Linked DNA regions of Homo sapiens. Changing the gene in region 1 together with any one later gene gives a genetic interaction. Each region holds a gene or a part of one and is shown in the gene's direction. Other genes may lie near its edges. The genes, in order: ARIH2, SEC23IP, SLC39A9, ACACA, CTBP1 and SEC24C.

The links.
Region 2: changes in ARIH2 (region 1) and SEC23IP together harm fitness less than expected from each alone (positive genetic interaction), as found in Homo sapiens cells (one large-scale study listed by BioGRID).
Region 3: changes in ARIH2 (region 1) and SLC39A9 together harm fitness more than expected from each alone (negative genetic interaction), as found in Homo sapiens cells (one large-scale study listed by BioGRID).
Region 4: changes in ARIH2 (region 1) and ACACA together harm fitness less than expected from each alone (positive genetic interaction), as found in Homo sapiens cells (one large-scale study listed by BioGRID).
Region 5: changes in ARIH2 (region 1) and CTBP1 together harm fitness less than expected from each alone (positive genetic interaction), as found in Homo sapiens cells (one large-scale study listed by BioGRID).
Region 6: changes in ARIH2 (region 1) and SEC24C together harm fitness more than expected from each alone (negative genetic interaction), as found in Homo sapiens cells (one large-scale study listed by BioGRID).

What each region holds. Positions count from the first base shown.
Region 1 is NC_000003.12:48,970,189-48,975,341, forward strand, and holds part of ARIH2 (E3 ubiquitin-protein ligase ARIH2), read left to right. Parts: intron 1-406; coding exon 407-516; exon of another isoform or gene 517-653; intron 654-3,510; coding exon 3,511-3,628; intron 3,629-4,476; exon of another isoform or gene 4,477-4,628; coding exon 4,629-4,679; intron 4,680-4,769; coding exon 4,770-4,791; coding exon of another isoform or gene 4,792-4,860; intron 4,861-5,153.
Region 2 is NC_000010.11:119,919,260-119,924,412, forward strand, and holds part of SEC23IP (SEC23-interacting protein), read left to right. Parts: intron 1-184; coding exon 185-337; intron 338-1,629; coding exon 1,630-1,725; intron 1,726-5,153. UniProt on the Homo sapiens protein: Plays a role in the organization of endoplasmic reticulum exit sites. Specifically binds to phosphatidylinositol 3-phosphate (PI(3)P), phosphatidylinositol 4-phosphate (PI(4)P) and phosphatidylinositol 5-phosphate (PI(5)P).
Region 3 is NC_000014.9:69,435,970-69,441,122, forward strand, and holds part of SLC39A9 (zinc transporter ZIP9), read left to right. Parts: intron 1-5,153. UniProt on the Homo sapiens protein: Transports zinc ions across cell and organelle membranes into the cytoplasm and regulates intracellular zinc homeostasis. Participates in the zinc ions efflux out of the secretory compartments.
Region 4 is NC_000017.11:37,259,860-37,265,012, reverse strand, and holds part of ACACA (acetyl-CoA carboxylase 1), read left to right. Parts: intron 1-1,118; coding exon 1,119-1,328; intron 1,329-5,153. UniProt on the Homo sapiens protein: Cytosolic enzyme that catalyzes the carboxylation of acetyl-CoA to malonyl-CoA, the first and rate-limiting step of de novo fatty acid biosynthesis.
Region 5 is NC_000004.12:1,214,559-1,219,711, reverse strand, and holds part of CTBP1 (C-terminal-binding protein 1), read left to right. Parts: intron 1-1,120; exon of another isoform or gene 1,121-3,506; coding exon 3,507-3,721; exon of another isoform or gene 3,722-3,753; intron 3,754-4,021; exon of another isoform or gene 4,022-4,166; intron 4,167-5,153. UniProt on the Homo sapiens protein: Corepressor targeting diverse transcription regulators such as GLIS2 or BCL6. Has dehydrogenase activity. Involved in controlling the equilibrium between tubular and stacked structures in the Golgi complex.
Region 6 is NC_000010.11:73,760,517-73,765,669, forward strand, and holds part of SEC24C (protein transport protein Sec24C), read left to right. Parts: intron 1-196; coding exon 197-333; intron 334-1,581; coding exon of another isoform or gene 1,582-1,650; intron 1,651-2,973; coding exon 2,974-3,085; intron 3,086-3,339; coding exon 3,340-3,467; intron 3,468-4,934; coding exon 4,935-5,073; intron 5,074-5,153. UniProt on the Homo sapiens protein: Component of the coat protein complex II (COPII) which promotes the formation of transport vesicles from the endoplasmic reticulum (ER).

The sequences.
Region 1 (5,153 bases):
GCCTTGTTATTTTTTATTTTTTTCAGAGACAGAGTTTCACTGTCATCCAGGCTGGAATGCATCGGTGCAATCAGCTCACTGCAGCCTGAAATTTCAGGCCTCAAGCAGTCTTCCCACCTCAGCCTCCTGAGTAGCTAGGACTATAGGCAGGAGCCACTATGCCTGGTGCAATTCTATATAAACTTAGATCATTCCAGTGAGTTGCTACCTGGTTTAAGCTAAACGTTCTAAATTCCTCTTTAATATCTGGCTTACGTTTGGTCTTCACATCCTTTCTGAATTTATATAGCCCCTTCGTATAAGTCATCAGCTGGGAGAACAGAAAGTGTTTGAATATTCAGGGGGTTCTGATTTTTAGACAGCAACTAAGAGATGTCCTCATTGTTTCCTCTTGGTGTGTTCACAGAGTCATTACCAGCTCCAGCTGTGCCCTGGTGCAGACTGCCCCATGGTTATTCGGGTACAGGAGCCTAGAGCTCGCCGAGTACAGTGCAATCGGTGCAACGAGGTCTTCTGGTAAGAGTGAGTGTGAGTGCTGAGCAGCCCTGGGCTCATGCCCCATCCTCCAAAGCACCACTGCTGTTGCTCCATGTGAGGGCGGCACTGGAAGAGGCAGGGTCTCTGAGCCAACAGAACAGCTGTGCTCCAAGTGGGTAGGTTTATGTCCAGCATCTCATATTCCACTAGGTCTTCAATACATGCTCAGTCTGGAGGCAAGGAAGTGACACAGGTTCTTGGAAAATGTGTTGTGGCTTATGCTACTAGGTCTCATGGCCCAGAGATTGTGTGGGATGTATCTGCCTGCATAGCTAATCACATATTACTGTGTTTGAAAGATATAAACTTGAACATTTTAATCTTTCTCTGTCTTGGCCTTACTTGGCTAATTTTTGTTAAACTAAGTCATAAATATATTCTACATCTACTCAAGGTTCACTTCATTCAGTAGATACCATGGGAATAACTAAAGTTTACCGAAGGCTTACCAGGTGACAGGCACTATCCTGATCACTTACCCTGCATTATCACAACTGTATATGACCCTTATATTCTCTCTTTTTTTGTTGTTTTCTTGAGACGGAGTCTTTCTCTGTAGCCCAGGCTGGAGTGCAGTGGCACATACTTGGCTCACCACAACCTCCGCCTTCCAGGTTCAAGTGATTCTCCTGCCTCAGCCTCCTGAGTAGCTGGGACTACAGGCATGTGCCACCATGCCCAGCTAATTTTTGTATTTTTAGTAGAGACAGGGTTTCACTGTGTTGGCCAGGCTGGTCTCAAACTCCTGACCTCGTGATCTGCCCGCCTTGGGCTCCCAAAGTGCTGGGATTACAGGATTGAGCCAACCGCGCCTAGCCATGACCCTTATATTCTATGAATAAATCAAGGTACAAGGTAAACCTAGTAAATCGTAGAGCCATAATTTAGGCCCAGATCTGTCCTAATCATACCTCCCTGGAATATTCATGGTGGGGCTTCAGAGAAACTACATGGAAAATGTGATGTGTGTGTGTACGCACATGCCTGCATTTCAAGACATTATTGACACCAAAGGTTAAGAATCACTAATGCAGTGGTTCTTTCATTTTAAATCCGGCAGCCCCCAGGATCACAGCAGATTCAGAAGACTCCTTGTAATTGTTCTTTATCCTTGTGTCCCACTTTATGAAATTCTTTCCCTGGGTATTTGCCTGAGGGCCTTTTCTAGCCACAAAGTACTGTTGGCCTCCACAAAAGAAAATTTCAAAATATGGAAGCCTAGCCCGACGAATATTGGAGTGTCTTTTTTTTCTGTTTTAAGTTTCAGTGTCATCAGATGTATCATGACCCTACAGATTTTGCACGTTCTGGCATTTGTGCATTCTTGTGTGCATATCTGACTGGGAGATCCGATGAGACTCCCGGAAGTGGGTCTCAATCCTGCCTTAGGTCTGAGCTAAGGAGTCCTTCTCAGAGCACCTCACCATGCCCTTTGAGAGTCATAGCTCTGTGTTTGACATCTTGGGAGTTGGTAAACAAGATGTTTAAACAAGGTATTTAACATACATATCATAGCTCACTGCAGCCTCAAACCCCTGGGATGAAGTGATCCTTCTGCCTTAGCCTCCCAAGTAACTGAAACTACAGATGCCCAGCTAATTTTTTTAAATTTGTTGTAGGGGCCAAGTGTGGTGGCTCACACCTGTGACCCCAGCTTTAGGACCCCTGTGACTTTAGGAGACTGAGGCGGGTGGATCACCTAAGGTCAGGAGTTCCAAGACTAGCCTGGCCAACATGGTGAAATCATGTCTCTACTAAAGATACAAAAATTAGCCAGGAATAGTGGCAGGAGCCTGTAATCTCAGCTAGTCAGGAGGCTGAGGCAGGAAAATCACTTGAACCAGGGAGGCAGAGGCTGCAGTGAGCCAAGATCATGCCATTGCACTCCAGCCTGGGTGACAAGAGCGAAACTCCATTTCAGAAAAAAAATTGTAGAGACAGGGTCTTCCTATGTTGCCTAGGTTGGTTGGTCTCAAACTCCTGGTCTAAAGCAATCCTTTTTTTAAAAAACAGGGTCTCTCTCAGTTGTCCACGTTGCAGTACAGTGATGCGAACACAGCTCACTGCAGCCTTGACCTCCAGAGCTCAGGCAAATCCTCCTGCCTTAGACTCTCTAGTAGCTGGGACTACAGACACATAGCACTACACCTGGCTAATTTTTTCATTTTTTGTAGAGATGGGATCTCACCATATTGCCCAGGCTGGTTTCAAACTCCTGGGCTCAAGCAGTCCTCCCATCTCAACCTTCCATAGTGCTAGGATTACAAGCATGAATCACTGCACTCGGCCTACAGAAATATTTTATTTGTGCGTGTTAGAGCATGTCTTACAAAGGCTTAAGTTGAAGAGACATTCATGCAGTATTTCAGTATAACTCTGGGTAGGTAAAGGTTCCACAAGCCTTGAGAGATAACTTTACCTATTTGAAAAGCTCTAGGCCGGGCACAGTGGCCCACGCCTGTAATCCCAGCACTTTGGGAGGCTGAGGCGGGCAGATCTCGAGGTCAAGAGATCAAGACTATCCTGGCCAACATGGTGAAACCCCATCTCTACTAAAAATACAAAAATTAGACTGGGCGCGGTGGCTCACGCCTGTAATCCCAGCACTTTGGGAGGCCGAGGTGGGTGGATCACGAGGTCAGGAGATCGAGACCATCCTGGCTAACACGGTGAAACCCCGTCTCTACTAAAAATACAAAAAATTAGCCGGGCATGGTGGCGGGCACCTGTAGTCCCAACTACTCGGGAGGTTGAGTCAGGAGAATGGCATGAACCCGGGAGGCAGAGCTTGCAGTGAACCGAGATCACGCCACTACACTCCAGCCTGGCGACAGAGCAAGACTCTGTCTCAAAAAAAAAAAAAAAAAGAAAAAAGCTCTAATTCATGATTTGTTGGCTTGGATAAAAGGAAAATTTTGAACATGGGACCCTGACTTAATGAATATTTGAATGTTTTTCTTTTCCAATTTTAAGTTTCAAGTGTCGTCAGATGTATCACGCACCCACAGACTGTGCCACAATCCGGAAATGGCTCACGAAGTGTGCAGACGACTCTGAAACAGCCAACTACATTAGTGCTCACACTAAAGACGTAAGGACCGTATTTTACCTCTCATGGATTTGCCCTCCTTAGTGCTGCCCAGGGCCTTGCCTTGGAGATTTGCCATCTGAGAGCAGAATACCCAGAGCCCCAGGACCCTTCCTGAGGACTGGGGGTTTGGGGACCCTCACACAGAGTTGGCAGCTCGTAGCAGTTTATTATAGGATGCATTGGGTGCATATTTTCTTTATTATGATGAAATGCCAAAATGCCAGGAAAGGGGGACCCAAAGGGGGAGCTAATTAGAAGAGAACTAATTATGATTGAACGCCTACCAGCCTTTAACAGCCCTGAAAGGGAGGTGGTTAATAGCCACACTTGATACATATAAGGCTGTAATGCAAGCCCAGACCTGCACGATACTCATTTTGAAGTCTCCCATGGGAAAGTATGGCCTGTGGGCTCTAGGGGCCACTGTACCCTTTGTCAGTCACTCGCCGAGTCAGTGCACTCACAAGCACAGTTACGATAACGACATTATTAAACATAGTCGACTTCACGGCAGTGGGAGATCACAGCATCAGACTGGTGTCTTCATTGCTGCCTCAGGTTGCTGGCATCTCTCAAATGGGAGAGATGAGCTTTAGATGTGGTTTCCTTGCCCTCTTCTCGAAGCAGAAGTTCAGGCAAGCTGACCAGGACTGAATCCATTGTGGCAGCTCCTGTGCTTCTTTGGCAGTCCTCTCAAGAAGGCAGGCTTTCTGCTGATTCAACTTGTGCTTAATCTGAGTAGCTTCATGGCAGGGGCAGATGGTGGAAGACTTAGTGGGGTTCAGCTGGTGCTTGAAGCATTTCAAAGCTAAATGTGCTGACCTCATTTCCTTGAATTGCTGTTCCAGCCTCAGCGACCTGCCACATTTAAGTGAGGTGCTCCTCCCCAGAAGTGCTCACACCATGAGCAACTGGGCACAGGTGCCAGGAGCTTTGTGTAATTTGTCTTAAAACCAACCTGGTGGTGTGTGAGCCTAATGGCACCCTTCTGTCTCCTCAGTGTCCCAAGTGCAACATCTGCATTGAGAAGAATGGAGGCTGCAATCACATGGTGAGCAGAAGCCTCTGCAGTTTGCATGTGTGACATGGAAGCTTTGGTCAGTGTGCCCTTAACGTGTTTTCTTCTGTTTCCCTCTGACAGCAATGCTCCAAATGTAAACACGGTGAGTTCCAAGCTTGGTGTGTAAGGCCCAGTGGCACTTTCTTGTGGTTGGGTCTCCGTTACTATTTAAGTGAGTACTTCTGCCATGAAATGACAAAACATAGAAGAACCTCAGTCACTTAACAGTCACAGTAACTGGCATAAAGTAGCTTTTTATTTTTATTTTCTGTTTTTTGGTCCCTCTTATAATCCCACTGCTATCTTGCTAACACATATAGTCAGAAGTCAAGTTTGGGATAAACCTCATGATCCTCAGTTATCCAAGAAGATGATTTCAGGGTGTTGCTTTCATTTTTTTGCCAAGGCAGGTAAGTAGCTTGGGGCTTATCTGTGCTACGTTGTAGATACCTTTACCAGAAGTAG
Region 2 (5,153 bases), on another chromosome or scaffold:
CTGGGATTACAGGCGTGAGCCACTGGGCCTGGCCAGAATATTCAAACTTTGAATGGCAAAGTACTGTGCCTAAAATTATGATTTCTGTGTAAAGCAAAATTGTTTGAGAGTTTTCGTAGATCAGCAGTCATTATATGGGAGTTTTTCTGAGCTTGTAATGTTTTTCATACTTTTTTTTTTAAAGATGCCTGAAGAGCCAAAGCTGACTTTGGATGAGTCGTATGACCTTGTTGTTGAAAATAAAGAAGTCCTAACTTTGCAAGAAACTCTGGAAGCACTTAGCCTCTCTGAATATTTTAGCACTTTTGAAAAGGAAAAGATTGATATGGAGTCCCTGGTACTGATCATAGTTTGCTTCATTTTGTTTGAAATTGTTTTTCTTGTGTAGATTGAAAATTAAGAATAAACATTTTCGTATCAAAATACACTCCAGAGTAGACAAAGACTGAAATGTTTTAAAAAATTGAAAAACACAGAAGAATATTTTTTTATAATCTGAAAGGCTTTTCTGAGTATGATGCAAAATCCAGAAGCCATCAAAGAAAAAAATTGTATAACAGTAGACACCATAAACAACATCTAAAGGCCAGTGATACATTTGCAACACACATTATAGACAGAGGGCTTACTTCATTGATTTTCAAAGCTTCTACAAATCAGTTACAGAAAGACCATCACATCAGTGTGATATGTAAATAGGCAAAGAATATAAACATGATTTACAGAAAAGGAAATAACAAATGGTGTCTTCGCATATGAAAACTCATAAGAGAAATGGAAATTGAAAGTACAATGGGATTTTTTTTAACTTACCAGTTTGAAAAAATAGGAAGTTTGAAAATATGCTATGTGGCCAGGGTGAAGGGAACTAGGCATTGTTATATATTGTTGGTCAGACTGTAAAATATTACAAACTCTTTGGAAGGCAGTTTGGCAATATCTTTAAGAATATAAAAATTACCCTTTGCTTCATCAGTTTCATTGCCAGGAATATTTCCTATAGAGAAATATTCAAACAAGAATTATCTACAAGGATACTCACAGCAGTGTTTGCAAGGTAACAAAACATTAGAGACACCATTGGTGTTGAGGAGTAGGGTGCTAGTGAAATCATTTATGGTGCATCCGCATAACGGAGTACCCTACAGCTGTTGAATGAATGATGCAGTGTCAGAGATACCCGTCTCTAAGGTACATTTACATGAAGAGAGCAGAGTTCATTACTGTGTGCATAGTAGAGCACACACACAGAGAAAAACATGTAAGTGCTATGCATACATAAGACATCGCTTCAAAGAGAGCAAGTTTCCACAGTTGCGCTGAGAGGAGAATTCTATGTTTGGGACAGCAGTGGGAGGAAGATATTTCATCGTATGCTTGACTATAGCTTTGGAATTTTGTATACCATATGTGTATTTTCTGTTAATTAATAGAATGATTTAGGTGTGGAAGCCTAAGATTTTATAGCCTAAACTGATGCATGATTTAAATACAAAATAACTAACTTGTAAAAAGTTGAGTGGCTCTTAGATTGCTTTAGATGATGTGGTTTCTTTATAATTTTCATATTCTCATTTCAGTTCTTCTATCACTAGATTGATTAATGTGCTTGTCTGTTTCCTTTTAAAGCTTATGTGTACAGTTGATGACCTGAAGGAAATGGGGATACCCCTTGGACCCAGAAAGAAGATAGCTAACTTTGTAGAACATAAAGCAGCCAAACTGGTAAAGTTCACCTCTGACTCAAGAAAAACTAAAACTCATGGTGTGACCAGCTCGTTTATATTATAGAAAATTTTAATACTACTATGGTTAGGTAAGCTAGTTTGCTCCCTACCTAGGGCACAGTAATGGAGCTGATGGAAACCCAGACTTAGGAGTCAGAGTTGGGCTTAAGTCCACATTAGGCTAAGTGACCATCCTGGTTTTCCTGGGACTAAGTTCCTAGGATGAAGGGCTTTCAGTTTTAAAATGGATATTTAAGGTTTTCCTGGTGCAAACAGTGGTTAAGTTCTGACAAATAAATTCTCAGCTCAACTGCTCATTAACTGCGTATTAATGAGCAATTTGTATTTGGTTTTATTCATTTGTTTATTTTGAGATGGGATCTTGCTGTGTTTCCCACTGCTGGTCTCAAACTCCTGGGCTCAAGCTATCCTCCCGCCTCAGCCTTCTGATCATGAGTGATTTTCTTAATTTTTCTGATCCTTTGTTTTCTTCATTTCTAAAATGGAATAATACCTTCCTTACAGGATTGGAGTAAGCATGAAATAATGCATGCAAAGCTTAGCACCAAGTAATAGCTCACTTTCTTCCCAGTCCTTACCATCTAAAGAGATGAGGAAAAACATACACACTGAAGTCTTAAACACTAAACAGCAAAAATTGTTAACAATACAAAACAAGGCAACAGCTAAAAAGCATTTAAAACTAGAACAACTGGAAAATATACTTGTTTTATTAATTTTAATTTATTGATCAAATTAATTTTACAGAGGTTTTCTAATTAGAAAAATTAGATGACTCTTAGGGTGGCCGTCTTATTTGTATTGTTATTAACATGCTCTTTGATGATCCTTCCATCTTTTGAATTTCTATGGTTCTATTATTTTACTACCTGTTTGGAACTTAACCTACATCATTTCTTTATATGGGAAATGACTATAAAGTCATAGGACTGATTTTTTTTTTAATGGTTAGCTTAAGGAATTGAGTCTTCTCAGCATTTTATTGAATAGCAGCTACCTCTTTTGAGTCAGGCACTGTGTTCAATTCTTGGGAGCCGGAGATTAACCAAGAGTGTGCTGTCTAGTTGCGGGGAGCACGTTGAGCTCAAATGACAACATACCAGCCCCATAATAGCGTGCTGTGTGTGCTGTCCTGAGGCAGATGAGAGGTGGCAGTTCTGGCTTGTTGAGACAAGCATGGGGTTGGTGAGAGAAGACTTCTCCAAGGTGATGGTGCTTGAGCTTGAAGGAGGGGTAAGGTCAGGGGAGATGGCCTTCTGGAATCTGGCATGTGTTTTCCTGTAGCATCAGGGAAGCTGGAAACTGGGAAGGGCAGAGGGTTCCAAAGGCCCAGGTGGCAGGTGTGGAGGCTTGGATTTTCTCTTGTAAGGGAGTGGTTTTCAAACATGTTCTTATGGCCATGAAAGTCATGGTGTTTTTAAACATTACAAAATGCTGACCTGCTTATTCTATCACAAGTTATGATTTAGCACCAAATCATCTGTGTAGTCTAAATTTTAATTTTAACTTTTGGACTGTGGAGAGTTTGCTTGGTCACAGTGCACAGATGAAGTTGGAAAGGCGTGAAGTGGAGGCGGCTGCAATCTTACATAGTAGTAATTGTAATTGTACAGTGACTGAAAGAGAGATGATAGGGGTATAAGGTAGGAGGTGGAGAGGAAGGGAGCAACTCAAAAGACATTTTAGACATAGACAAGCAGTATTTGATTAAGTGCTGAGAAAGGTTATTAGTTTTGGCAGTTAAGAGGTATCTTTCATGTCATTTTTCTTGTGTGTTGAATCGTTCTGTAATTCCAATTTACAAAGAGCTTTTCATCTCACCTGAGCCTCACAACAACCCTGTGAGTAGATCCCCAGGCTTTTGTCTCTGATGAGCACAATAGTCAAACTGAGACTAGGACACAAGCATGTCAGTGTTGTTTCTGTATACAGGCTGCGTGCTCCATACAGAAAAATGCTTGTCTCCGTGTATACATCAGTGAAGCAAAAGCCTATAAAAAAAAAAACAAAAAAAACAAGAAATGAGAAGCTTTGTGTTCAGGCCCTACACCATGTTCTTAATTTATTCTGTAATGAAAGGGAAAAAAGTAGAAAAGGATTCTATAGTTCTTGAAGAATTTCTAGAAGGAGACTGGTTTATGGACTGCAGTTGCTTAGATATATAAATTATGGCATTATAAGAATGTTTTGAAATGAGCAAAAATCTATAGAGTGATCTTATTTTTTAAATTAAAAGGTAATTGCCTTTGGATGAACCATGAAACTTTCTCAGCTGAGTTGCCATTGATTGCTTTACACTTCTTACAGATAACAAGGTGCTACTAGATCAATACAAAAGTAATATGGTGTGTCCTGTTGATTTACTGTAACTGAAATAATGGGACCAAAATTAGCGATTATTTTATAACAAGGAGATCAAATATTTGTGATATTTGTGACTGTGTGCTTTTTTTTTCTTTTTAAAGCATCTTAGTAATTTTCATTTGAAAAGGAATTGTTTCTAGTGTTGGGGATATTGATAGTCAAGTATGTATATGTTGGTTCCGTTTTTTTTTTTTTGAAAGGGAGTCTTGCTTTGTCTCCCAGGCTGGAGTGCAGTGGCACGATCTCGGCTCACTGCAACCTCTGCCTCCCAGGTTCAAGCCATTCTCCTGCTTCAGCCTCCCAACTAGCTGGGATTATAGGCGTCTGCCACCACACCCAGCTAATTTTTGTATTTTTAGTAGAGATGGGGTTTCACCATGTTGGTCAGGCTGGTCTCAATCTCCTGACCTCAGGTGATCCACCTGCCTTGCCCTCCCAAAGTGCTGGGATTACAGGAGTGAGCCACCACGCCCAGCCTATGTTGGTTCACTTTTAAACACTGTTGGTTCACAGTTTAAAAAGTATTGCAAATTTAACAAAGCAACTCTTGGCAACAGGACAGTTTCTGATCTCCTTAGACAGCTCTCAGCAATTTAGAATGTTTTATGAATTTAACAGGAGGTACTTCTGAGTGAGAAAGCAGATTTAAAGTGAGGAACCCTGAAAATGTTCCTTATTTCGGATTTTAGGCTTAATTTTGTGTTGCCTCCGAAGGGCAGAGATAACCAAGCCTTCTAAAACATTAACGGTGGAAACAGTTACAAGCTGGCTAAGAGTTTTCTTTTTTATAGATTGCCTTTTCAATTAACCAGTTACTTACTTTCCTGATTTCCTGGTGTTTGGAATTAAATAATAAGATCATTTTGGCCAGCTGTGGTTGTTTAGGCACTGTCGATAGCTGTTTAAATCGAGACTAACACTTAGCCATTCACAGCCTAACAAGTCCCCCTCCCACCCAACTGTTTAAATTTCTCTGATGTTATTGTTGCTGCTGTATTCAAGGCAAATTAGAAAACCAGTGTGAATGGCTTTTCTCTCGTT
Region 3 (5,153 bases), on another chromosome or scaffold:
GCCATTTCCAGTCTATTATTGATCTCATCCAGTGAATTTACTACTTTAGATATTATATTTTTCAGTTCTAAAATTTCCAGTTCGTTTCTTTTTATAAGTGTCTGTTTCTCTGCTGAGGATGTTCATTTATTTGAGGAATTTTTACCTTTCGGCCAGGCGCAGTGGCTCACGCCTGTAATCCCAGCACTTTGGGAAGCTCAGGTGGGGGAGGATCACTTGAGTATAGGAGTTCCAGACCAGCCTGGGCAACATAGCAAGACCCTGTCTCTATTTTTTAAAAATTATTTTTCCAAAAGTATGTTATTTTTAGCTTAGAGAACATAGTTAGAGTAGCTGCTTTAAGTAAGTCTTTGAATGTTCCAGTATCTGAGTGATCTGTGGGTTGGGTTGATTGTCTTTTCCCTCGGTAATTGGTCAAAATTTCCTGTTTCTTTGTATGTCAAATAACTTTTGGTTGTATGCTGGACATTTTGAATATGATAACTTGAGAATCTGAGTCCCGTCAAAATCTCTGGAGAATGTTTATTTCTTTTGTTTTAGCAGGAAGTTAACCTATTTAGATTCAGCCTAAAAGTTCTGTTTTGTTTTTGTTTTTTGTTTTTTGGATGATGGTTCTCATTTTAGCTGAGTTTTCAAAGCCTTTACAATGCTGCTTTGGCTATGTCCTGTGTATACTGAGTTCAGGGGTGAGCCTGGGACTTGTGCCGTTTATACATAGGATTAAAGAACCCCTCTCTCAGCTCTTTCCTCTCCAGTGTTCCTTCCACATTGTTTTGCAAACAGACCCCATTTTCCTGGTCCTCTGTCAAGAAAGACAAGGTTTCTCTATAGAGCTGTGGCTGCATGCAACACTACATGTGTTGCCACCACATAGTTCCATGTGACTTGGGCTTCTATCAAAAGAAAGTAACAGCAGAAAAGGCAGAACAGCATAACCAGGTTTCCCCCATACACTTCAGACCACTGGGATCCCTTGCTAGCTCCGCCTCCCGGGTTCATGCCATTCTCCTGCCTCAGCCTCCCGAGTAGCTGGGACTACAGGTGCCTGCCACCACACCCGGCTAATTTTTTGTATTTTTAGTAGAGACGGGGTTTCACCATGTTAGCCAGGATGGTCTTGATCTTCTGACCTCATGATCCACCTGCCTCGGCCTCCCAAAGTGCTGGGATTACAAGCGTGAGCCACCGCGCCCGGCCTGGGATCCCTTTTTCTATTTGCTCTGGCCAGAAAGATGGGGTTTTAACTGCCTTTGTTGCCACCATGCAGTTCTGCAACTGGGGCTGCCTTAAAGGCAGGACCAGGAAAGAAAAAAGAGGAGGTAGAGAAAAAAAGGGGAGACTTTCCTGTACTTCACTACCTCTTAGCAACCTCTTTTCCTGGTCCTTTGGCCGGAAAGACAGGGTTTTTCTAGAAGTTTTTGCTGCCTTGCCTTCACTTGCTGTTGTTTACTTTTTGTAGTCCTGAAGTAGTTGTTTTTTGGTGTGTTTTGTCCAGTTTTTGTTGTAATCAGTGGGTGATTGACGTCAAAATGCTCTTACTGTAACATGGCCAGCATCAGATGTCTCCAACATTCCTTTTAAAATGTAAAATGTTAATACCTCTGTTAAAGAAGTTTTTTTGTTTGTTTTTTTTTTTTTGAGACGGAGTCTCACTCTGTCGCCCAGGCTGGAGTGCAGTGGCACCATCTCAGCTCATTGCACCCTCCACCTCCCGGGTTCAAGCAGTTCTCTGCCTCAGCCTCCCAAGTAACTGGGATTATAGGTGCCTGCCATCATGCCCAGCTAATTTTTGTATTTTTAATAGAGATGGGTTTCACCATCTTGGCCAGGCTGGTCTTGAACTCCTGACCTCGTGATCCACCTGCCTCAACCTCCCAAAGTGCTGGGAAGAGTAACTCAAAAAAATCTGTGAAGTAACTTAACCATGATATTACCTTTCAGCTAAGCTGTCTCCAGATTTTTTACATCTTTCTTCATACTGATGAGTTTAGACATATCATTGTAATTTTGTTTTTGCTGCTTTACTCTCTCTTTTCTTACCCTCTTCCCTTACCCTTTTTTTTTTTTTTGAGACAGAGTTTTGCTCTTGTCACCCAGGCTGGAGTGCAGTGACACCATCTCGGCTCACTGCAACCACCGCCTCCTGGGTTGAAGTGATTCTCCTGCCTCAGCCTCCCTAGTAGTTGGGATTACAGGCACCTGCCACTAGGCATAGCTAATTTTTGTATTTTAGCAGAGACGGGGTTTCACCATGTTGGCCAGGCTGGTCTTGAACAACTGACCTTAGGTGATCCACCTGCCTTGGCCGCCCAAAGTGCTGGGATTACAGGCATGAGCCACCGCGCCTGACCCCCCTCTTTCTTTATTGTAGACCAAAACAACTTTTCTTCGTACTTCAAGAAAGACGTTTGTATACATGTTACTACAGCCTATGGTTTCGTTCTTCTGTGGACCTTATAATTATAATACATTGTTTTCAGAACTCAGTATATCATGTTAACTAAGTGCTCTGATGCTTTAATAAGCATTATTAAATACTAATTAATGTAAAAAGGAACCTCTTACTCTTCTGTAATTATAGCTCTAAAATCACTGGAATTAGATGATTATCAGCTTTCACGTAAAAAAAAACTGTCTATAGAAACAAGTTTTAAGAACTTCAAAGATTGTTGGGTAATGCAGCACTTTACTGTGCAGCCAAAATTTGAAAACATCTCAAAATTCTTTGGACTGTTAGAATTGGTATGTTTAGGAAGGTAGACTATTGGGTCAAAGATGAAAATATAAATGTGATGTATTGTCAAAACTGCTATTGTCAGCCATGGCTCAATGTAGATTATCCCACTCATTTTTATCAGTTCTGTAAGAATGCCATGTATCAGATTCTTTATAGAGGTATGATTAACTGTGGCTTTTTCTGTCACTTTACTCTACATTAAATAAAATATAGGGGGCCCTAGCCAGAACAGTCAGGCAGACAAAAAAGATAGAAGGCATTCACATTGGAAAGGAAGAAGTAAAGTTGTCTCTGTTTTCAGGTGAGATGATCTTATGCATAGAAATACCTAAGGATTCCACACACAAAAAAATTAGAACTAATAAACAAATGCAGTTAAGTTGCAGGATACAAAATCAGCATACAAATATCAGTTGCATTTTTATACACTAACAATGAACTATTTGAAAAAGAAACTATGAAAACAATTTCATTCATAATAGCATCAGAGGGGGAGGGAAAGCATTAGGAGATATACCTAATGTAAATGAGGAGTTAATGGGTGCAGCACACCAACATGGCACATGTATACATATGTAACAAACCTACACGTTGCGCACATGTACCCTAGAACTTAAAGTATAATTTTTAAAAAAATAATAATAGCATCAGAAAATAAAATAAAATAAAATACTTGGGCATAAATTTAACCAAGGAGGTAAAAGATCTATATGCTGAAAACTATAAAACATTGATTTAAAAAATTGGAGAAAATATAAGTAAGGTATTCTGTGTTCATGAATTGGAAGAATTAATATTGTTAAAATATCCGTAGTACCCAAAGTGATCTACAGATTTAATGCAACCCCTATCATAATTCCAGTGGCATTTGCTATGGTTTGGATATTTGTCCCCTCCACATCTAGTGTTGAAACTTGATCCCAGTGTTGGAGGCGGGGCCTGGTGGGAGGTGTTTGGGTCATGAGGGTGGATCCGTCATGCACATATTGGTGCTATCCCCTTGCTGATGAGTGAGTTCTCCCTCTATAATTTAACAAGAGAACTGGTTGTTTAAAAGAGCATGGCACCCCTCCCCTCTCTCGTCTTGTGAAATACTGACTCCTCTTCCCCTTCTGCAATGATTGGAAGCTTCCTGAGATCCTCAGATTCGTGCTTCTTGGACAGCCTGCAGAACTGTAAGCCAAATAAACCTTAATAGAACGATCCTAAAATTCATATGTAACCACAAAAGGCCCTGAAGCCGGGGTAATTTATAAAGGTCAATTAAAGAGGTTTAGTTGACTCACAGTTCAGCATGGCTGGGGAGGCCTCAGGAAACTTACAATCGTGGCGGAAAGCAAAGGGGAAGCAAGGCACCTTCTTCACAAGGCCGCGGGAAGGAGAAGTGCTAAATGAAGAGGGGAAGGGCCCCTTAAAAACCATCAGATCTTGCAAGAACTCACCATGTAGTACACCTGTAAACCCAGCTACTCGGGAGGCTGAAGCATGAGAACCACTTGAACCCTGGAGGCACAGGGTTGCAGTGAGCCGATATCATGCCACTGCACTCCAACCTGGGTACAGAGTGAGACTCTGTCTCAAAAACATAAGAATAGTGTCAGGCACGGTGGCTCAAGCCTGTAACCCCAGCACTTTGGGAGGTCAAGGTGGGCGGATCACTTGAGCTCAGGAGTTTGAGACCAGCCTGGGCAACATGGCAAAACTACATCTCCACAAAAACAATATAAAAATTAGCAGGACTTGGTAGCTCACATCTGTAGTCCAGATTCTTGGGGGACTGAGGTAGGAGGATGACTTCAGTCCAGGAAATGGAGGTTACTGTAAGCTGAGATTGCACCACTGTAGTCTAGTCTGGGTGAAAGGGCCATACCTGTCTCAAAAAGAAAGAAAGAGAGAGAGACAGAGAAAGAAACAGAAGAGTACATTGTAACTGTTGTAAGGTTGGATATTATTTTGTGAAACTGTTTTGTTTTGTTTTGTTTTTTTGAGACAGAGTCTCCCTCTGTTGCCAGGCTGGAAGGCAGTGGCGTGATCTCGGCTCACTGCAACCTCCGACTCCCTGGTTCAAGCGATTCTCCTGCCTCAGCCTCCTGAGTAGCTGGGATTACAGGCACGCGCCACCGTGCCCAGCTAGTTTTTGTATTTTTAGTAGAGACGGGGATTCACCATGTTGGCCTTGATCTCCTGGCCTCGTGATCTGCCCCCCTTGGCCTCCCAAAGTACTACGATTACAGGCATGAGCCATTGCACCTGGCCTGTTTTGTTTTGTTTTTAAGAGACAGGATCTCTAGGCTGGACACAGTGGCTCATACTTGTAATCCACCACTTTGGGAGGTCAAGGTGGGAGGATCACCTGAGCCCCAGATTTCAAGACCAGCCTAGGCAACATAGGGAGACCACATTTCTACAAAAAAAT
Region 4 (5,153 bases), on another chromosome or scaffold:
CAGCTGAGGCTCCCTAGACCTACCAGCCAGCAGTCAGCACAAATCACCAGACATCTGAGTGAGACCATTCTACCCCACTCAAGCTACCAGATGATGATATGTATGTAAGTGCAAGACCAGAAGAAGAACTGCCCAGATGAGAACAACATCATAAAAGGTTGATGTTCTAAGCAAGCCACTGAGTTTTGAGATGACTTGCTACATGGCAAAACAGAGCAAAAAAGATACAGAGCATAAAAGACATATGGTTATGTGAAATGGTCTAACATCATGTACTTTAAGTCTCAGAGGAGAAGAGAAAGAGAATGGAGCAGAAACAATAATTGAAGAAATGATGAAGCAGAAGCCATATTTGAAGAGAGAAAAGCTAAGAATTTCTTTGAACAGATAAAAGATACCAAGGACAGATTCAAAAAGCACTATGAGCCTCAAGCAAGACAAATACAAAGAACCACATCTATGCTTATCAGAGTAAATCTACCACCCTCCCCCCTATAAAAGACAGAAAGAGAGAAAATCTTAAACCAGCTGAGGAATAAAGATTACTTTCAAAATAGTAACAATAAGATTGACAGTTGGCATCTCAGTAGAAACAGTGAAAGCTGAAAATCATTGGGATTATTTAAAGTGCTGAGAAAAAAAATAGTTACCATTTTAGAATTCTGTCCCCAACAGTAATATTCTTCAAAACTAAAGATGAAAGTCCTTTGGCTGCAACAATACCATATATGATGTAATGTGAACCAGGAAAGTATCTTGTCTGGAACAAGTTGTACATTTGGTTGTACAGAGTACAGGATGGCAGTATTTTGCCCTGTTGTTGGATTTGTGTATGTGCCTATGTTTTCAAATATTTTGTTGTTTACCTTTGTGATGCACCAGATGTTCGTATGTTTTCATATTTATCAATTAATATTGGTTATGTAAGAATGCAGCATCTTAAAGATATTAAAGATGACAGCATGGACTGTATTTTATTCAGTTTTGTATTTCTGCTGATTAACATGGTTCCTGACACTTCTGGACATCTGCTTGTTGAAATCAAAGTAGCTTATCAAGATAGATAAAAAGTTTAAAATTTAAGAATTGGTTTTTTTTTTCCCCCTTTTCTAATACAGGTTCAAGCTGAAGTTCCTGGATCTCCCATATTTGTGATGAGACTAGCCAAACAATCTCGTCATCTGGAGGTGCAGATCTTAGCGGACCAATATGGCAATGCTATCTCTTTGTTTGGTCGTGATTGCTCTGTACAACGCAGGCATCAGAAGATTATTGAAGAAGCACCTGCTACTATTGCTACTCCAGCAGTATTTGAACACATGGAACAGGTACATATATTAAAAGGCTTACTTTATGTTTTCTTACATAGAACATTTTTCATTCAGTTCATGTACCAATCTGAGAACAATGGCATTTTAAGCAACGATTCTGAATAATTAATAAAATTATATCCTTTTCTTAGAGAAAAAAAATTCTACTGTTCTCCCACTAAGAGAATTGTCAAGGAACATGTCAAGCTTCTAAAAGTAGTTAACGCTTTCTAAAAAAAATCAGCGTACCATTTCAGGATACAGGGATAAAGAAGAGAAATGTTTTGGAATTTTTAATCTTATGATTGATTTTTTTAAGAGGCTCATAATCAGGTAGTTTTATTTGCTGGGTTGAGTATCATCAAGTCTTCAGCTGAATTTAATCAACTCTATTATCGTTTTTGGAAAGTCCTCTAAATATCTTCAGAGTTCACACATTCTATCTTTTTGTATAGAAAGTAGTTTCTCAAAGTCATGAGCGATGCCTTCGGAATAACTATAGTTTAGAGGCCTGAACATAGTCTTTTCTGGAGTCCTAACCCAGTCTCTACATCAAAATAGATTCTTCAAAATATATTTCATGTGTGTTAGAGGTCTATTTCCTATGTTGTGTATATATTAGGATGTACTCTTGAACTGCTGTAATAAAGATGCCTTCAAAATACAGTGGCTTGGCCGGGCATGGTGGCTCTTGCCTGTAATCCTAGCACTTTGGGAGGCTAAGGCGGACAGATCACTTGAGCCCTGGAATTCGAGACCGGCCTGGGCAATATGGTGAAACCCTATCTCTACTAAAAATACAAAAATTAGCTGAGTGTCATGGCACACGTCTGTACTCTCAGCTGCTTGGGAGGCTGAGGTGGGAGGATCACTTGACACTGGGAGGTCAAAGCTGCAGTGAGCCTTGATCATGCTACTGCACTCCAACCTGGGTGACAGAGCAAGACCCCATCTCAAAACAAATAAATAAATAAGCAAAATACGGTGGCTTAAACAAGGTGTAAGTTTCTATTTCTCTTTCATCATAGTTCAGAGATGAGCTGTTACCAGAAACAGGTTTATTGCTCACCTGTTGCCTGTTTTTGTAAATAAAATTTTGTTGGAACACAATGATGCTTATTTATTTATGTGTTATTTATGGCTGCTTTATCACTACAATGGTAGAATTGAATAGTTGTGACAGAGGCTATATGGCCCACAAAATTGAAAATAATTACTATCTGGCTCTTTACCAAAAAAGTTTGCCAAACTTTGCTCTTGGACATTGTCATCTTCATGATTAAGCTAACTCACACAAGATTATGTTCACATTGTGGCCTGTGGGAGGAAGAGACAGGGGATGTGGAGGGCAAGCATATGGAAGCATGATCTTGAAGTCACATACATCACTTCTGCTCACATTCCACTGGACAAAATTCAGTTACACAATTATACCTAGCACAAAGGATGTTAGGAATTGTGATCACTAACTGGGTGACCATGTGCTCAGCAAAAATTTCGATTTTATTCCTAAAATGATGAAGTAGAGAAAAGTCACTGGAGGGCATTTCATAATCTGTGCCTCAGTCTGTTCCTCTGGCTACCTATTATCCCTTTATCCTTTTTCCTACTTTCAGAGCACACATAGCCTTTGTCCAAGGAAGACAACCTGAAGCCCCATCCAGTTACTAGTAACTGGATGGGTTATTACTGGAGGTGATTCCGGATCTCTATATGATGTATATTCTTCTCCATTAGATATGTATTGTGGCTTTTCATGGGCCAGTGACTCAAAATACAAGTTATTTACCCAGTATTATATCCCCTGCCTTCACCATACACCCATATACAATGATGGAATAGGAACAGGATAACTCTCATTTGGAAAAATGAAAAATACATAGCAATCGTTGGTCCATAGCAGTTATCAAATCCTCCTTTTTAGGTAGGAATTGCAATGATTCCCTGCTATATAATAGAATACTACCTCAGTTAGACCTGGCTGTCCCTGGTTCTGCTACTGCACACTCCAGAGAAGTGCAATAAGGGAGTAAATCCCTTGTTCATTGTCCTTCAAGACACCTGACATTGTTTTCTGGGAAGTTCTTCCTCATTCAGTTTTCTCTGTGAGTTGGGCTTTGGAGACTATGCCTTCTTTGGCAGAACTTTCACAACCCACTTCCTGCTGGTGCAGGATTGAGGGCACAAATATCCCAATCATCAGTCGCAGGCTTTTGAAGGCCAGGTTTGTGGTTTGTTTAGAAATACAATTCCTTCAAATACTTAACTAAGCTTCTGGGCTATTTGCTTGCAATCAGCTTTGGGTTGGATTAATCATACTCATAGATTTCTTCTAGATATAGAAACTTTTCTTCTATTATTTACTGGCTTCTGTGCTTAGCCTATCTCTCTTGCCTTGATTTAATATTGGCTATCTTGGGGCCAGCTGAAACTAAAGCAGCACGTTTGATCTTTGACACTGAGTTGCTTCAGGGTGATAATCTCATTTTCTGTTTGGGGGGATACAAAAGAAGTTGGCTTTTTCGACACTCTGACCCTTTCAGACCATCTTTTTTAAGGTTTAGTTGGTGTGTGGTCAGTATCCCAAGTTATTGTAGGAAACAGTTTACCAAATGTTGTGTTATCCCAACAAGGAGATTATCACCTTTCCAGCCTGCAGTATCTGTTTCTCTGCTACCCACTACCCTTTTGCTAAGCTAGCATCTCATATTTTAATATTTTTAAACAGCAACATTCTACCTGCACTTAATAATTCCTGTATCGATTAGGATACAGGTTAAACTGCTATAACAAAAAGGTCCAAAAAACACAGCGGACCCCCCCAAAAATAGAAGTTTATTTTTCTCTCCCATCCTAGTCTGAGGTGAGCTTTTCAGGGCTGGTGGAAGTGTTTTATTCCACGAGACCATCTTGGGATTCAGGTTCATTCTTTCTTTTCTTTTTCTTTCTTTTCTTTTCCTTTCTTTTCTTGGTGTTCTTAGTGTGTTCTCATTTGCATGATTGAAGTTGGCTTATACTATCATGACTATGTTCCAATGAATAAGAAGGAAAAAGCCAGGAATAGAGAATGAGACATTTCCTTTTCAAAATATGACTTAGGGCTGGGTGCTGTGGCTCACGCCTATAATCCCAGCACTTTAGGAGGCTGAGGTGGGCGGATCACCTGAGATCAAGAGTTCGAGACCAGCCTGGCCAACATGATGAAAACCCATCTCTACTAAAGATATAAAAATTAGCCTGACATGGTGGCATGTGCCTGTGATCCCAGCTACTCAGGAGGCTGAGGTAGGAGAATCACTTGAATCCGAGAGGCGGAGGTTACAGTGAGCCGAGATTGCGCCACTGTGCTCCATCCTGGGTGGGTGACAAAGCGAGACTCCATCTCCAAAAAAAAAAAAAAAAAAAATATATATATATATATATATATATATATATATATATATATATATATATGACTTGGGAGTTATGCATATCACTTACCAATGCTGGTGTCCTGTTTGTCAAAACTTAGCCACTAACCAGGCCAGGCATGGTGGCTCACGCCTGTAATCCCAGCACTTTGGTAGGCCAAGGCGAGTAGATCACTTGAGGTCAGGAGTTTGAGACCAGGCTGGCCAACATGGGGAAACCCCATCTCTACCAAAAATACAAAAATTAGCCAGGCATGGTGGCGCATGCCTGTAATCTCAGCTACTTGGGGGGCTGAGGCAGGAGAATCACTTGAACCCGGGAGGCAGAGTTTGCAGTGAGCCACGAGATTGTGCCACTGGACTCCAGCCCAGGAGACAGAGTGAGACTCTGTCTCAAAAAAAAAAAAAAAAATCTAGTCTCTAACTAGTTAGC
Region 5 (5,153 bases), on another chromosome or scaffold:
ACAGATTCTCTTGAATTTTCTCTTGCACACACTGCTGTGTCATCTGCAGATAAACACAGATTTACATTTTCCTTTCTGATCTCTGTACCTTTTATTTCTTTAATTTCTTTATTTTTGCCTTTTTGCATTAGCTACAATCATCAGCAGCAGTGAGTGTGGGTGTTACCGTGTTGATGTGGGAGAAAAAGTTTCTGACATTTCACCATTAAGTAGGACGTTTCCTGTTGGTCTTTTTGTGGTCTAATTAATTGGTCTGATGTTGAGGCAGCCATCCCAGCTCTTTTGATCAGTGTTTGTGTGGTATGTCTTTTTTCATCCTTTTAATTTTAGCTTATCTCTGTTCTTATATTCATTCATTCAGAGACAAGGTCTTGCTCTGTCACTCGGGCTGGAGTGTGGTGGTGCGGTCACGGCTCACTGCAGCCTTGAGCACTGGGGCTCAAGAGATCCTCTTGCCTTAGCCTCCGAAGTAGTTAGGACTATAGGTGCGTGCCACTGCAATTTTTTTAAATTAATTGTTATTATTATTATTATTATTTTTTGGTAGAGACAAAGTCTTGCTGTGTTGCTCAGGATGGTCTAGAACTCCTGGGCTCAAGTGGTCACCCTGCCTTGGCCTCCCAAAGTGCTGGGATTACGGGTGTGAGCCACGGCGCCTGACTTCTGTCTTTTATGTTTAAAGTGTGTCTGTTATTAATAGTATAGAGTTAGTTCCTCTTTCTTTTTTCAGTCTGACAGTCTTTGCCTCTTGAGTGTTCAGTTCATTTATTTTTAGTGTAATTGCTGATGATTTGGATTTCGGTGTCATCTGGCTACGTGTTTTCTGTTCATCCTTGTTTTTCCTTTCTGGCCTTCTTTTATATTAATCAGGTGTTAAATGATTCCTTGCATCTGTTGTTGCTTTTTAACCTATACTCTGCTTAGTGATCGTGTTTAGTTTTACTTTAGAGATTAGGATACGCCTTCATAACTCACTGCCACCCAGCATAACCTGTGAAGACTCGTCCAGGGCGGCCAGAGGCCCGCGGTGGCTCCTCTCACCCTCGGGCCGATTTTCCACGTCTATTATGCAGAAAACCGTACAAGAAGCTATTAGTCATGAGTCTGTCAAGGAATTTTTCAGTAATTTTTCTTTTGAATATCAACCGACACATCCACCCTTTCTGCCTTGTTTACGCCCCCCGATTCTGGCTGTCCTCGGGCGTCACGTTCCTGTAGCCTAAAGACTGTCTTAGAAATGTGGCTCACCAGTGACCGATTCCTTTTGCTTTTCTTTGTCCGAAAATGTGTTGCCTTTTTTTTTTTTGTGGAAGGTAGTCTCGCTCTGTCGCCCAGTCTGGAGTGCAGTGGCGCGATCTCGGCTCACTGCAGCCTCTGCTTCCCAGGTTCACGCCATTCTCCTGCCTCAGCCTCCCGAGTAGCTTGGACTACAGGCGCCCGCCACCACGTCCGGCTAATTTTTGTATTTTTAGTAGAGACGGGGTTTCACCATGTTGGCCAGGCTGGTCTCGAACTCCTGACCTTGTGATCCGCCCACCTCAGCCTCCCAGAGTGCTGGGATTACAGGCGTCAGCCACCAAGGCCTGTTCTTTAAAATTTATTTTTTAAATTCTTTTCTCTCTGCTTCTGTTTGGATGCCATCTGCTGACTTTGAGCCCCTCCCTTCAAGCTCCCGATCCTTTTCTTGCAGTTAGCTTTGTCCAGGGAGTTCCGTTTCAGAGGGATGTTTTCGTTCTGGAATTTCTATGTGGTTCTTTATAGAGTTACCATTCATCTTCCGGAAGCCTCCATTTTTCTGCTGTTTACATCCACACTTGTTGTCATCTCTGAGCATGTTTATAGTAGTTATTAAGAGGTTTTGCTGGCTGATTCCAGCCTCGGTCATCTGTGCGTCTGTCCGCTTCCAGTGTTTTGTTCTAATTAGAAACTACATCCTCCTGTCTCTTCACCTGCATCATCATAATTTCTTATCCTAAGCCAGACATCATGTGGAAGAGAATGGCAGAGACAGAAGTGAAGAATGGTCTCGCCCCGAACAGCCGCTGCTCTCCCGTGTCAGGCGTGGCCGGCGCCGGCCCGCGGCTTTAGCTGGTTTTCGCCACCGGCAGCCCGACTTCCGGGGCTTTGTGTTGTGCGCAGTGGGAAACAGCGTGTCGTCCGCCTTCTGCGCTGTGGGAGACGCCTTTCTCTGTGTCTGCCTGTGTTCTCTTCCTCCCCATTTGGTGGGATCCCTGGCAGGGGGCGTTGACAGACGGGCTGTTCTGCACCTGGGGAGCTGCCCGGGTACTCCGGCCGTGGCTGCAACCCTCAGAACTGCTGCTCCCACCTCCGCCTGCCGAGCCCTCCTCCCTCCTGCAGCAGCCTCGTCCCTGGGGATGGAAGGAGCCACCATGTTCCTTCTCGTAGAACAGGCGCCTCCCTTTCTAGGATGTAGTGCGTTTAGACGGTCCTCAGCTCTTCTGACTGGCCTCCCAGCCTCCCCCAGTCCTCTTCCCAGAGTGACTGGGGGTCCCCTGGGCGTTTGGGCCACGTCCGGCCACCCTGTGTGCCTGGCGGTCTGGTCTCCTTGGCCCTCAGGCCGCCGCGGGCCCCTCGCACGTGTTGTTCCAGCTCTCTGGCTCCCTTCCTGTCCCCTTATGTCTCCAGCAAGCTTGGTCTTCTCAGGGAGGCCTGCCCTGGCTGCCGCCTTTGAAACTGCGCCCACTTCCCACCCGCCCCGGCGCTCAACCTGCTTCCTTCCTGTGTAGCGGTTCCCTCTGAGGCAATGCAGGAGACACCACGTTCGCGGGCTTGGGGTCCTGTGTCCTTTGCAGCCATGCTGTTGGCTCACAGTGGGCACGAGCACTCTGCAGACCCTTCCCCGAGGAGGAGCCGGCCCCAGCCAGACACGGTGGCTCAAGCTCCACGGCTCCTGTGCTGGGACCCGTGCCAGCCTTGGACTGCTGGGGTGGGGGCAGGCACGTCTGCCTGGGATGGCTTTCTCTGCCGCTCCACTCGAAGGGGTCAGGACCTGAGCCCAGCGGGGCCTCCCTGGTCTGGAAGTTTCCCTCCTGCCCCCTTTGCCGTCTCCACGTAGTGGTGGCTGGAATTGAGATGCCGGAAACATTGATGGGTGGATCGAAAGGCCAGCGGAGGGGCCTGGGCACGGAGGACATGTGTTGGGTGGGTGGAGACCCACTGACCAGTCCGTTTGACACTGAGTGGTTCATGTCACGTCCTGTGGACAGGCTGCAGGGGAGTGGTGTGGCTGGCAGCTGGTGTGGGCCGAGGGGCTAGTGTACCCTTTCCACCCCTGTGCATCTCCTCCGCCTTGGCAGTGGGCGCGTTGGAGCGGACGTGGAGCGCTCGTGTGGAGCGTGCGTGGGCACCTTGGCTTGACCACAGCTGGTGTCATCCTTGGCAGATGGTCAAACTGAGGCACAGAGGCCACTCCGACCCTGGCTTTCGGGGCCGGCCTCCCGGCCACGGGTGAGCAAGGGTCTCACACTGTGTCTTGACGCCACCAGGTCGCGTGGGGCAGGCAGTGGCGCTGCGGGCCAAGGCCTTCGGCTTCAACGTGCTCTTCTACGACCCTTACTTGTCGGATGGCGTGGAGCGGGCGCTGGGGCTGCAGCGTGTCAGCACCCTGCAGGACCTGCTCTTCCACAGCGACTGCGTGACCCTGCACTGCGGCCTCAACGAGCACAACCACCACCTCATCAACGACTTCACCGTCAAGCAGGTGCGTGGAGCCGGGGACACAGGACTCTACTTCTGCGGGGCAGGTACAGGTGGGGGTGTCAGGCAGGTCCCTCCCAGCAGCCATCTGCACCTGGGCAAGACCCTGCCTTCAGCGAGCCACATGGCGGCGGCTGCCAGCCCTGCTGGGGGAAGCCCTGTCTGCCCAGACAGCGTTTTCTGTGTTCTGAGTTCTACTCAGGACATCTAAAATACTCTCTGGACAAGACAGAACCTCATACCTTTGAACACCAAATTCCCCTGAAGCCCTTGCTGTTGTCACAGTGGGGACAGATGCAGCTACCTGGGGGCGTTGGGTCGGCCCTTGTGACTTCCGTGCTGCCAGGTTCAGGTTTCACATCTGCAGCTGGAACGGGCTGTGCTCAGGTCGGCCTCTGACATCTGCAGCTGGAAAGGGCTGTGCTCAGGTCGGCCTCTGACATCTGCAGCTGGAACGGGCTGTGCTCAGGTCGGCCTCTGCCTCAGCACAGCTCGCAGTGCAGCCTCAGCCCTGCGTTCCCCTTGAGTGGGTGGAGCTGGGGATGGCTGCCTCCCGCTGGCTCCAGGCCCTTCAGGGAGTCATCGTGTGTGCACAGTGATGTGTATGTGTGTGGGCAAGTGTGCGTGGGTGCATGTGTCTGCATGTTTGTATGAGCTTGTATGTATGTGCATGTGTGTACACACGTGTCAGAGGCCACCCGCCCACTCTAGCTGCCCCAGCAGCCTGTAGCCACAAGGAGGATGAGGCCAGGTTCCCGCTGCCCCTTCCTTTGTTCACAGAGTCAGTGGGTTTGGAGCCTTCTAGGGGACAGGGTGTGGCACGTGGATGCTGGTCAGAGCCCTGCCGTCCCTGAGGACCTTGGGTGTGAGGCTTTAATGGGCAGCAGTGCACCAAAGAAAAGCCACCGTGACCTGCCCAGCTGTCAGCCAAGCACCGTGGCTGGGTGGACTTCTTGGAATGAAATGGGGGGGCTGCAGGAAAGCCCTGGCCACGAAGCCGAGGGAGAGCCACCCGCAGGGCTTTTTGCAAAAGTGCATGAAAAGCGAGCCTGTTCCGAAGACGGAGGCTCTGCTGCAGGCCCCGCTGGGGTTGGAGTCAAAGACCACGCCTCAGAACAGACGGCCCTGGGCTTTGCCGTCCCAGGGAGTCCCACCTCGTGGGCTGAGGCCCTGCGTGGGGGAGGCTGGGCTGGAGGGGACCCAGAAAAGGGGTACCACAGGGGGACCAAGCCAGGAGCCCCCGCCCAGTCCTCAGCTCAGGGCTTGGGCAGGAGGGTGGAGCTCTCTAGGAGCTGTGGGGCCGTGCAGGTCCATACAGGGCAGATCCTCAGCCAGCCTGTCAGGGCCGCGGTGCAGCACGCCCGAGGCCTTCAGTCCTAGCGCCGTGGTGAGCCCAGGGTGGGGCTGGGAAGGGGCTAGGGAGCTGGGCCTTCCCA
Region 6 (5,153 bases), on another chromosome or scaffold:
TATTCCTAGGATATGGGGTTTGTAAGACATTATTTTTTCTTGTCGTTCTGATAACATGGTATTTTTCTGAATGTCTTTGCCAGGCATTAGTGTGCCTCATAATTCTATGTTTTTAGGAGTCTAGTCATTTTCCTGAGGCCTTAAGAAGAGATAGGGATGGGATTTTGAGTTCATCAACCTTGTGTCCTTGTCTCAGGTTCCTTCGGACCAGCCCGGGGCCCTCAGTCTAATTATGGAGGCCCCTACCCAGCAGCACCCACCTTTGGCAGTCAGCCTGGGCCTCCTCAGCCACTGCCTCCTAAGCGCCTGGACCCTGATGCCATCCCAAGCCCTGTAAGTAGAAACTTTCATGGTCCTGAGGAAGGGTTTGTGTCTGCCAGATAGGCAGGTCAATCTAGATGAAATGTTTGCCTAGCATTTTCTGATAATTTTCCCTTTTTGTTCATCTTCTTGGAGAACTTACATATAATTTGATTCTGAACTGGAACTTGAGGTTCTAGGAGTCTTTTGGGGGGCTGTTTTACTCTATAGCTGGGCAGAGAAGGAAGGGAAACCAAGAGTGAGCAGCAGCACCAGTAGATGTCTGAGGGCTGCACTCTGTCACTACTGTACATACATAGTATAGTAGCCTTTGTCCTTCTGTGGAGCAGTGACTGGGTCTTGTCCCCTTAGATCTAGAAGGATGGCATTCTTCCTAATGGGTAGAGCAGGTGGGAATTCTCTGATGTTAGATGTTAAGAGAAGGAAAGCCTCACTGGTTTCTCTGCTCTTACTTGGACAGTTTTAGGAGGAAGTCCCCAGTACTTTTGTTTGGTAGGCTTCTGCTGTGTGGATGGGGAAGAGTGAACGACAGTTTATGAGGGCAGTGTGTATGTAAAGTCCCACTGGAGAGCTGCTTTTTTCAGGAAGAGGGTGAATTGCACCCTTGGAGCCATCAGAATCCTCAGGCCCTCCTTATCAGACTCAGAATAGAGACTAGGACTGTACTGCCAAGTAGGGGCCACTTTATAGTTCCACCTGTAACATTTGCTATGTCAGTTACCTTGCCATGCTTAGCCATTGTCATATTCCATTCTGTTCTCGTCCCTCTTCCTCCTTTGGGTAACCAACACAGTGAGGGAGCCTGTTGGCCAAGGAGAACTCAAGAGGATTAAGCAGCCTCTCCTTCCTTCCCCCTCCTTCAGTGAGAAGGAGAGTCTGGTTGGACATGAAGGGAGGCTTCTTTCAGCATAAGATAGTCCTTAGAATGGGAGGTTTGGCCTTTTAGGGGGAACACTCCTCTTCTTCTTCCTTAAGGTTTCTTCCATTCAGCCTCAGCCCCTCCCTGTGTAACTCCTGCTTGCCTCCTGTTTGCCCCTTTCCTTATCTTTCTACATCATAGTCTGAGCCATTAAAGCCTCTGTGTTGGGCCAGAAAGACTTGGAATTTCATATCTAGAGGGGGCTTGATTTCAGCAATATGAGCTGGGCTCCAGCTGTTCATGTCTAACTCAACAGGGTTGAGAGAAGTAACATCTGCCTCTTGTTCTTTTGTCTCCCTCCTTGTATTCCCCTGCTGCATTTATTATTAAAACACTAAAAGCAACTCAGTGAGCTGCCTCCTCAGCAGAAAACCAGGCACAGAATAGACCCCGATGCCATTCCTAGTCCAGTAAGTGCAGGGGGTGGGTGTTTGTGCATGTCATTCCTGTGTTAGTGCCATCCATGCATGCCTGTGACCTCATCTTCACCTCATCTACCATGTCCATTCCTCCCCATTCTCTTCCTTTAGCCTAGCCCTTCTAGATACTCACTTATACAAGATAAAAGGATATGCATGCCTCAAGTCACCAGGTAATGAAGAGGTAGCAAGCTGTTTGCCTTGAGTATGGGGTGGTGGAAGGTCAGGCTCTAAGGGTGGGGTCAGGTGGCATGTCAAGCTTTGGCTTTAGTTCTGCTGGCACCTCCAGGAGCCTGCAGGTGATGTATGATGGAAGAGGACAAAGTTGAACGGTAGATCATTCCACTTTGGATTTGATTTGTCTGTAGCCTGTTGTGGAGAAATATTGGAGTAGGAATGTACAGATTCATAGTATCCCAAACTGGCATTTCTTACAGGAGAAGGGACTGCTGGTTTGGGAAAGTGTGGGTGCTTTCTCATCTGAAGAGTCTTTTTGACTCTGATATATTTCTAAGCTTCAACCTTTCTGCTATGGGATAGAGTCTTATTTGCCCTTTGCTTTTTCTGGTTTTCCAAACCCATCTTGAAGTAACTGACCAAAGGTCATTAGCCTGCATAAAGGTCTGAATACCAGCTTTGCAGGTCCTTTATTTTCCTTTGCTGAGTCTGTCAAAATGTGGAGGACTGAGGATTGAGCTATAAGGATTGGGTACTTCTCCTCTCCTCCTATATATACACATTGATGCTTACCTGAAAGTAAGGCAGCATCTGCTTCCTCACCTTACTTGATCATTTCTGGCTGTTTAAATCTCTCCTCACCCTGTCCCTTGTAATTTCATTGAGTGTAGAGTCATTCCAGGTAGATTCATTTTTACGTGGTTACTGTTGTCTGTTTTCCTGCTCTGACTCAGAATGTGTCTTGGGGAGAGGATCGGGGAAGGCATGATGGGGGAGGGGAATGGAATCTAATCATGTTTGAAGGTTTGTGATCAGAGCTGGGGCTTTTCCTGGAATGGGAGGAATGAGAGGGTGTTCACCATTGATGGGGGGTAGGGGGCAATTCATAAAGAAGCCCATTCTCATGTTGCCTGCCCAGCAGGCTGCTGGGAGTGAAAGATTGGCTGCTGTAGAGTGTAAGATTGGCATTACAGCATTTTATATGATCTCCAGAAGGAGAACAGGCCTGGTGTATGAGGTGTTCCTTGGCAAATTTTTAGTTTTTGTGTTACAGCTCTAGCCTTTTTCACTCTTGGCACTCTGGGACCTCACACTTCCTTTTTCTTCTGTCACCTCATTCATTGCACTTCTCTGCAGATTCAGGTCATTGAAGATGACAGGAACAACCGGGGTACAGAGCCATTTGTTACTGGAGTACGGGGCCAGGTGCCACCCTTAGTCACTACCAACTTCCTGGTGAAAGACCAAGGTGAGAATGGAATTAGCTCCTCCCACAGGGGCTTTTTCTTCAAGATTATCAGCTTATGGTTGGGGCTTTTTTTTTTTTTTTTTTTTTTTTTTTTTTTTAGTTTTTAACCAGAGACAAGTTCCCTCTAGTCCCTCTGGGGGAAAAAGCCACCATCACCTCTAGCTTTGTGGAGTTGATGGTGTGGATCACCAATGGAGAGCTGGTGTCTGGAAGGATTCTGTGATCTGACTCGGGTCTTCTGCCTCCTTCTTCAGGGAATGCAAGTCCCCGATACATCCGATGTACATCCTATAATATCCCTTGCACATCTGACATGGCTAAGCAGGCTCAGGTGCCCCTGGCAGCAGTCATCAAACCGCTGGCAAGGCTGCCCCCAGAGGAGGTGAGTCAGGGAAGGGGCTAGAGTGTAATGAAAGGGAGGGAGGTAGAGAGGGGTCTAAAGCGTCTTCCTGGATGTGATTCCAGCTTCACAATGGAAGATATTTTAGTTAGGCAGGAGAGGAGACTGTCTTTAGTGGCTTTCTATCCCAGGGCCCATGCCTGGAGAGGGGATGGTAGGGATGAGAGCAAAAGCCCAAGACATTGCTGAGAAGGAACAGAGTCTCTAGAGGAAACAAGCAGGATGAAAAGAGGTAGGGCCAGGCCAGGCGCAGTGGCTCACGCCTGTAATCCCAGCACTTTGGGAGGCTGAGGCGGGTGGATCACGAGGACAGGAGATCAAGACCATCCTGGCTAACACGGTGAAACCCCGTCTCTATGAAAAATACAAAAAATTAGCCGGGCGTGGTGGCGGGCGCCTGTAGTCCCAGCTACTTGGGAGACTGAGGCAGGAGAATGGCGTGAACCCGGGAGGCAGAGCTTGCAGTGAGGCGAGATTGCACCACTGCACTCCAGCCTGGGCAACAGAGCGAGACTCTGTCTCAAAAAAAAAAAAAAAAACAAGAGGTAGGGCCAAATTGTAGGGGAGAAGACAGCTGAATGTAGGAACCTCTCGTATCATGGTCATCTCCAGATGATGAGAAGGACATCATTCCATGTTTTCCTGACTGTCCTGTCATCCCAGGTTAGTGCTGTTAGAACAGCATATAAGAGAAAAGGTAGATTAGGATCCAGTGATCCTTCTGTCACCTGTTTTGGGACCTGATCTGTCACCCCAGTACCTGATACCAGCATGAAGAGAGCGAGCCAGGCAGCTGCTCCACCAGGCCTTGGTAGGATACTCATATTCAGCCTTGCTTATCTTACGATAGGGTTCTCTGTTACTAGAAGCCAAAGGCTCAGTTTATATTCTGCTTATCTCTCCGTCTTTCTCTGTGTGTTTGTCTATTTCTATCTGGGTCCCATTGGGGATAGTTGGGCACTGGTCTCTTATGTGTAGGGTGACATTTGCCTGGGGCATCAGTAACTGGCACAGAATCCCAGGGATACGGGAGGAGGTGTTACAGATATTTGGTTAGGGAAGGAGCTGGAATCAAGATTCTTAGAGCAAGAGTGAAGGGCATTAGAGATGGGGCCAGAAAGGAGAATCCTAGATAATCTTGGCTTTCTCCCTCATATGCCCATGGCAGCCCCTAGTCTGATATGGCCGGTTTTGCATTTCCTCTTCTCTTTCAGTGAGAAATGCAGCTCTGGGGGTGGGATGTAGGAAGAGGGAACTATATAATTTTTACTCATAGGGACATTTTCCTGTGATTTGTCTTTACTCCCTTTCATCATTGTGCTCCCTACTCCCTCTGCAGACAGAATATCTGCGCCATGCGCCTTCTTCCTCCGGTTGTTCTTCCTCATCTCCTGGCTGAACCTACTGTGGTTTTCCTTTATGTCTGATCCCTTCCCCTTTGCGCCTTAGGCTTCACCGTATGTTGTGGACCATGGGGAATCTGGCCCTTTGCGCTGCAACCGCTGCAAAGCATACATGTGTCCCTTCATGCAGTTCATTGAAGGAGGGAGGCGTTTCCAGTGCTGTTTTTGCAGCTGTATCAATGATGGTATGTTCATGGAAGCTGGGATTTGGGGGAAGGTCTTGATTGTATCTTCCTTGTTCTCTATTAAATAGTTAGAGAGATGA